2 linked regions of the Homo sapiens genome follow. The protein of the gene in region 1 interacts with the protein of each later gene in a pairwise test. Each region holds a gene or a part of one and is shown on either strand. Other genes may lie near its edges. The genes, in order: ZNF420 and CYP4V2.

Region 1 (3,830 bases):
AGGTATAATGAAAGAGGAATAGCATACAAATAAAAGATAATTACATCAACAAATCCACAAGCAAACATTGCCATTATGAAACAAAAATAATGCCCATTTTGTAGGTTAAAAAAAGAACAGAACTAAAATACCAGACAACAATACCAGATTGGAGAAACAGATCAAAGTTAAAGCATTTCAATATCCTTTAATTATCTTAAGGAAAGTTAGACATGAATTTTAGACTTCACTAAATTAAGCATGTATTTGTCAAGTGACACAAACAATAATGATAATTACTAAAGTACCAAAACAGGCAGAAATACCCCCAAAGTATTTAAATTCACCGGCAATGGCAGAAATGTTCTTCTGTTTTTCATCTACAAATCAACAAAGATATTTCTTTTTTTTTTTTTTTTTTGAGACAGAGTCTCTCTCTATCACTAGGCTGGAGTGCTGTGGCGCGATCTTAGCTCACTGCAACCTCCGCCTCCCAGGTTCAAGCGATTCTCCTGCCTCAGCCTCCTGAGTAGCTGGGATTACAGGCATGTGCCACCACACCTACCGAATTTTTGTATATTTAGTAGAGATGGGATTTCATCATGTTGGCCAGGATGGTCTTGATCTCTTGACCTCGTGATCTGCCCGCCTCAGCCTCCCAAAGTGCTGGGATTACAGGCGTGAGCCACCGCGCCTGGCCTTAACAAAGATATTTCTACGTGCTAATAGCCACTGTTGATAAAGTATATAATAGATATACATTGCTGGTATACTTCTGATAAGAATTCTGTGACAATAAAATATATATTTGACATAGAGATGTCAATTTCTTATCTCTCCTTAGAACCTCAACTAATTGCCACAAAGGTTACCAATTTATTTCACAGTAGATACTATTATTTATATGTCTGTTTTTCAACTTGCTGGCCTTGAAATCCTAGGGGTGGAGATAGAGCAAGTTTATTGCAAAGCAATATGCAAACCAAATATTGTATGTGGACTGAATAAATATGTTTTAGTATCCATCAAAATATATAATGTCCATTAAATATATAATTTTCAGACACAATTACAATCAATAAAAACTATAAAATACCATTGACATTAAAAGGAATTAGGTACACATGATAAAAATTTAAAGATAACTTTTAAAAATAAATAAATACTGTACGTTTTCCAAACAAAACAAGGGGGAAAATGGAGTTGCAAAAAATAAAACACGATTGTATCCACCCTCATTAAGGAGGGAGAAAGTTTTTTAAGCCCGTAAGATAAAAAGAGGAAACAAAAAGCATAAAATAGGGGATAAATAAATCCAAGTATATTGGTAATAAATTAAATGGAGTGAACATTCAATTAAAAAAAATTCTCAGATAATACCACAGTGCAGTGGTTATCAAACATGGCTAAACATTTGAAAAACCTAGAGAATTTCAAAAAATATGATACTCATGTACCATGCCTAGAAATTATTATTTAATTGGTCTGGGGTGTGGCCTGGGCTGTGGAATTTTTTAAAAGACCGTAGCTATTTCTAAAGTACACACAAGTTTGGCAACCATTTCCATATTATTTCTGCACAATTCAGTGGCTTTTAGTATACCCACTGAGATGTGCAACAATCACAACAATCTAATTTTTAAACATTTTTTCACCCCCAAGAGAAATGCTGTCTGTGTTCATTAGCAGTCACTTCTCATCTCCCCACTCCCCATTCTCCATCTGTTCTACCTCTTCCCCATCCCCAGTGCTGGGTAACCAGTAACCTACTTTCTGTCAGTATAGATTTCCCTATTGAGGACGTTTCATATAAATGCAATCATATAATATGCAGTGTTTGTATTTGGCTTCTTTCACTTGGCATGGGATATAGTTTGGATGTTTGTCCCTTCCAAATCTCATGTTGATGTAATCTAACATTGAATGTAATCTCCAGTGTCAGAGGTGGGGCTTGGTGGGAGGTGTTTGGATCATGGGGGTGGATCCCTCATGAATAGCTTCGTGCCATCTTTGTGGTAAAGAGTGAGTTCTTGGCCGGGTGCACTGGCTCACGCCTGTAGTCTCAGCACTTTGGGAGGGAGGTGGGCGGATCACGAGGTCAGGAGTTTGAGACCAGTCTGGCCAACAAGGTGAAATACCATCTCTACTAAAAATACAAAAATTAGCTGGGTGTGGTGGCAGGTGCCTGTAATCCCAGCTGCTGGGGAGGCTGAGGAAGGAGAATCGCTTGAGCCCAGGAGAAGGAGGTTGCAGTGAGCCAAGATTGGGCCATTGCACTCTAGCCTGGGCGACAGAGCAAGACTCTGTCGTGAGTTCTTACGCTATGAGTTCACGCGAGATGTGGTTGTTTAAAAGAGCCTGAATTTCCTCCTCTCTCTCTTGCCCCCTCTCTTGCCAGTGACACACCGACTCCCCCTCCCTTCCACCATGACTAAAAGCTTCCTGGACCTCACCAGAAGCCAAGCAGACACTAGTGCTATGCTCGTACAGCCTCCAGAAGCATGAGCTAAGTAAATCTCTTTTTATTATAAATTACCCAGCCTCGGGTATTTCTTTATAGCATGTTTCCAAGGTTCATCCATGTTAAAGCATGTATCAGAACTTCATTCCTTTTTATTGCTGAATAATATTTCGTTTTAAGAAAATACCAAATTTTATCCATTCATTAGTTGATGGACATTTGGGTTGTTCCCACTTTTTGGCTATTGTGAATATCAAGATATAGTGCACTTCTGCCTTCAAATCTTGAGAATGCCTGGTACTGTCAAGCTGCCAATTTATAGCATGTGAAATAACTATATCATTGTGGTTTTAATTTGCACTTTTTTTTTTTTTTTGAGACAGAGTCTCCCTCTGTCGCCCAGGCTGGAGTGCAGTGGCACAATCTCGGCTCACTGCAACCTCTGCCTCCTAGGTTCAAGCGATTCTCCTGCCTCAACCTCCAGAGTAGCTGGGATTACTGGCATGCGCCACCATGCTCGGCTAATTTTTTGTATTTTTAGTAGAGACGGGGTTTCTCCATGTTGGTCAGGCTGGTCTCGAACTCCCGACCTCAGGTGATCCGCCCTCCTCGGCCTCCCAAAGTGTTGGGATTACAGGTGTGAGCCACCGAGCCGAGCCCAAAGTTCTTAATATGTAATATTCAACTACCAAGCACATACAAGACCGCGCCCGGCCAACCATTCCCTCTTTTGAAAGTGGGAAGAATGATAATAAAAACCAACAGGGAAAGGACGCAGTAGAAATTAGGTAAGAGTCTTTAGGAAGATCATGGTGAAAAACCCTTGCTTTTCTCCTCAAGTCATAGGTTTTTTTCCACACCACTTGGGTCCTCTAGGGACATGTGTTAATCACTGACTTCCTAAAGGCTTCAGAGGAGAAAGGAAGGAAGAGGCAAGAGACAGTTTATTCCAGCACAAGGAATAAAGTTATCATGTAGGTTGGAAAATCACTTATTAAAGTTGTAATTGATACGGATTTTGTTTCATATAAAAATACTACAGAAGAAAACAATAAAGTTTCTTAGACAATCACAGGTTCCCCCTCAACTATTTTACAATAAAAGATGATTCTAGCATATTCATTCAATGTCCAATGCAAGTTCTTTTTTTTTTGTTTTTTGAGATGGAGTCTCGCTCTGTCATCCAGGCTGGAGGAGTACAGTGATGTGATCTCAGCTCACTGCAACCTCCACCTCATGGGTTCAAGCAATTCTCCTCCCTCAATCTCCTGAGTAACTGGGATTACAGGCACACACCACCATGCCCAGCTCAATTTTTGTATTTTTAGTGGAGATGGGGTTTCGCCATGTTGGCCAGGCTAGTCTTGAACTCCTGACCTCAGGTGATCTA
Region 2 (3,830 bases), on another chromosome or scaffold:
TCGTGTATGTGTTTCTCATTCTTGTGCTTTCCTTTTGTTGTTATTCTTCTTCCCATATTTTCTGCACCAAGTAGGTATTGTTTTAGTCATCGAAACAGTCAATTTTACTCTAAAATTGCTTGCAATTATTCACCTGTTAAAAGGCAGGGCAAGGACTTGATGAAGTACAGAGAAGTGCATTGAGCTGAGTATATTTAAGTCTCCTGCTCATTTCACTTCATTTTAACCAATATTTATTAGGCATCTGTGATTTTCCAATCACTGCACAGGGTACTGACTGGTTTTGTAGTAGTACACAAAACAGAATAACACAGGAGGCAGGCAACGGACAAAGAAATTCATGAACTGTAATAATTGCTCAGGAAGAAAAGATCAAATTGATACCAGAGAGCAAAACAAGAAAGTGTCCTACAGAGTGAGAGGCCAGGAAAGGTCTTTCTGAAGAACCGGCACCTAAGCTGGTCCTGCAGGAGATCACATAGGGGTCTTTCTGCTCTATGGCTGGACATGAAAGGGAGGTGCTGGGACAGCCAAGTGACAGATGGGTACTTAGAGAGCCCTCGCTTGTAGAAGAGGGCAGCCAGTTGTCTTCTGTCACTCCAGAGGAGTGGTCAGACCAATGATGGACCTTAAAAAGAGGCCGATTTCATCTCAAACCCTGGTGCAGAGGTCCTAGGCAGAGTGGGAAACTTGCCCTGGAGAAGCAGAAGCAGAGACCAAATGGCTATCTAGTAAGGATGTTTTATAATGAATCCTTCATTCCTTTAAAGAGCCCATTATTTTCTGAGGCTTCATGGGATGCGTAATAGCCCATGCCTTCACTGCTAAGCATAAAACATGGAGCTCTTAGTAGCCTCTAAGACAATCATCGTCATTCCCACGATTGCCTTCATCAAGGCCAGGTACTAAAGAAGTGCTCAAGAAATACACATTTCTGATACAACAGCTGATGTATTTTTATCCCATTTATAGAATGAGTGAGATGATATTTCGAAGAATAAAGATGCCCTGGCTTTGGCTTGATCTCTGGTACCTTATGTTTAAAGAAGGATGGGAACACAAAAAGAGCCTTCAGATCCTACATACTTTTACCAACAGTGTAAGTCCCTGACTTTTACAATTGTGGTAAAATAGACATAACATAAAATTTCCCTTTATAACCATTTTAACTGTACAGTTTGGTGGTATTAAGTGCATTCACGATGTTGTGCAACCATCCCCACCGTTCATTTCCAGAACTTTTGGTAAGTCCATGATGTTGATGTTTTGTTAACATACCCGGTGTAGGACTATGGAGCCTATGTCTCAGAAAATAAAACTTGAATAATAATAGAAAACAATTTTTCATATAAAAAATTATACTTAAGTATAAAAATGTATACTTCAATTATGTAGTCAACAAATATTAATTAAGTACTCGCTAAGTGCTAACCACCATACCAAATGTTGGAAATGTAGTAATGAGTAGGACATGTGTATATGGTCCGTACCTGAAAGGAAGTTATTCTAGTAGGAGAGGTGATCTATCAACACATAATTACAACATGTGATATGAGCTGTGAACACTTATGAACAAACAGGGTGCTGTGTAAAAGAATAAAGGAACAAAGATCTATGTATAGGAGTTTTCTGGAAAATGTTTGGATTCGGCAGTCATTTTCAAAGGCAGAGGGCATTGATAGCAGTATCTTAACATGGAAAACATTAAAACTAACTAGATATTAGTATTCTATTTCCAATTCAAAAATAACCAGAAGATAGTGATGTTGTTTTGAATATAGGATGTCAATCTTTGTGTTAATAATGTGTTTTGAAAAAGCAAGACTTAATTGAAAATATACATCAAATTATAATTTCAGTGTATTAAAAAACTGCCTGTTTAAATATGTCCTTTCTTTGCTGTAAATTTTGGTTAAAATCTATTGGAGTTATGTCCTTGTGGTGAAGTACACCCTACCCCCAAGAGAGCAAATGATGAATAAATCAGTAGATGTTCCATGAATGCAATGTTGGCTGAGCTGGCCACAGTGGAGTGTGATCACCTGGTTATAGGAGAATAGCCAGCAGGTTATATTTCATAATTATATTTTTCCTTAAATTTTGTGCATTAATATTTAATAGCAATAATTAAATGAATTCCAGACTGAATAGACAATTTTATTCATTGAATAAACATTGAGAATTGCCTACTGAGGCCTGGGCTCTAGGAATTCCACCAAGAATAAAAAAAGACATGGTGTTTTGCCCTCAAATTGCTTAGAATCTATTCAGGCCACTTAGTAGCAGGTTTGGTCAATTACCTGGTAGGAAAAGAAGGTTGAAATGTACAACCAAATTAAGTGTATTGGCCTTCATTCTTTTATCCATCCAAGAAATATCTAGTGAGTATTTGTTAAATGCCAAGCAGTGCTCTAGAGGTTGGAAATGTATCAATGAACAAAGACATGCACAAGCATGGCAGTGTTTGAGTTGTAAGAGAAAGATGCTAAATAATAAGTATAACGTAAGTATAATATCACATTATAATAATAAGTATGACAGAAGTATCACATAATGTCAGGTGGCAAGGGAAATGGAGAAAAAGCATTGTTAGGAGGCGTCGCAGTGCTAGGGACAGGGGTAGCAGGGATGAGGGAGGTCTCTCTGATCGTGTGACAATGAGCAGAGATCTGGAAGAAGGGAGGGGGCAGCCGTGCAGGCCTCTGAGGAAAGCATTTCAGGCAGCAGAAATCGCAAGCATAGAGGGTGAATTCACTAATCTGCTTGCTGTTTCTTTTCTCCTCTACAACATGTAATTAAGTCTATAATTAGACTGTTGTATAATGATTGCATTCACTCTACCACTTAAACTTTTTCTCATTAGCGCAATCCAATCTCTAGGGTACTATCTAGTAGACTATGATTCTATTCTTGTGTTGGAAAGACTGCAAAAATAGCACTTGAAAATTAGGAATTTGCGTGACATTAAATTTGTTTTTAAAAGTTTCACCAGATAATCCCCAAAATATTAATGAGGCTTTACTGTATTTTCACAAGAGCCTATGTTGTCGAAATGTTGAAATAGGCTTAGAAAAATAAATGAAAGAAACTAGCATATTTTATAAGAAAATGTGTTAACTAGGGTGCATCCAAGTCCAAACAGAAGCATGTGATTATCATTCAAATCATACAGGTCATCGCTGAACGGGCCAATGAAATGAACGCCAATGAAGACTGTAGAGGTGATGGCAGGGGCTCTGCCCCCTCCAAAAATAAACGCAGGGCCTTTCTTGACTTGCTTTTAAGTGTGACTGATGACGAAGGGAACAGGCTAAGTCATGAAGATATTCGAGAAGAAGTTGACACCTTCATGTTTGAGGTATTGTATATTGTTAGGTTCAGATATCATTAAACAAATTTCAGTTATTGTTAGAATCTTTAGCATTATTTTTTAAAACAATCAAATTTTAAAGTAGTTTAACTAAAGAAGATTCATTATATTTTAATTAGAAATTACAAAATTTAAGAAACTGATTAAGTACCAGCTCAACTTCTTCAGAAAACGATTTTGACTAGTGCTGGGCACAGCAGTAGACACATTTGTTTTTCCTCAAGAAAACCTAAGATTTGTCAGAGTTTTCCCAAGCAGAAGAGCAGCCAGAGATTGCTCTCAGTTCTCCATGTGGCTTCAGGCTTCCTTCTAACCTCCCAGACATGCAAGTCCACTTCCTCACCACCTGCTTTCTGAGGTTCCAGCAGATGAGCACTTAGCTGCTGCCATGAGCTACTCTACCTAGAGGACAGTTAAGAGCCCTCCAACAGAGAATCAGCCAGTTCATGATTCTAAAAAG

What was found.
Region 2: the proteins of ZNF420 (region 1) and CYP4V2 interact in a two-hybrid assay, tested with the Homo sapiens proteins (one large-scale study listed by BioGRID and IntAct).

What each region holds. Positions count from the first base shown.
Region 1 is NC_000019.10:37,091,700-37,095,529, reverse strand, and holds part of ZNF420 (zinc finger protein 420), read right to left. Parts: intron 1-3,830. UniProt on the Homo sapiens protein: May be involved in transcriptional regulation.
Region 2 is NC_000004.12:186,197,985-186,201,814, forward strand, and holds part of CYP4V2 (cytochrome P450 4V2), read left to right. Parts: intron 1-972; coding exon 973-1,099; intron 1,100-3,172; coding exon 3,173-3,358; intron 3,359-3,830. UniProt on the Homo sapiens protein: A cytochrome P450 monooxygenase involved in fatty acid metabolism in the eye.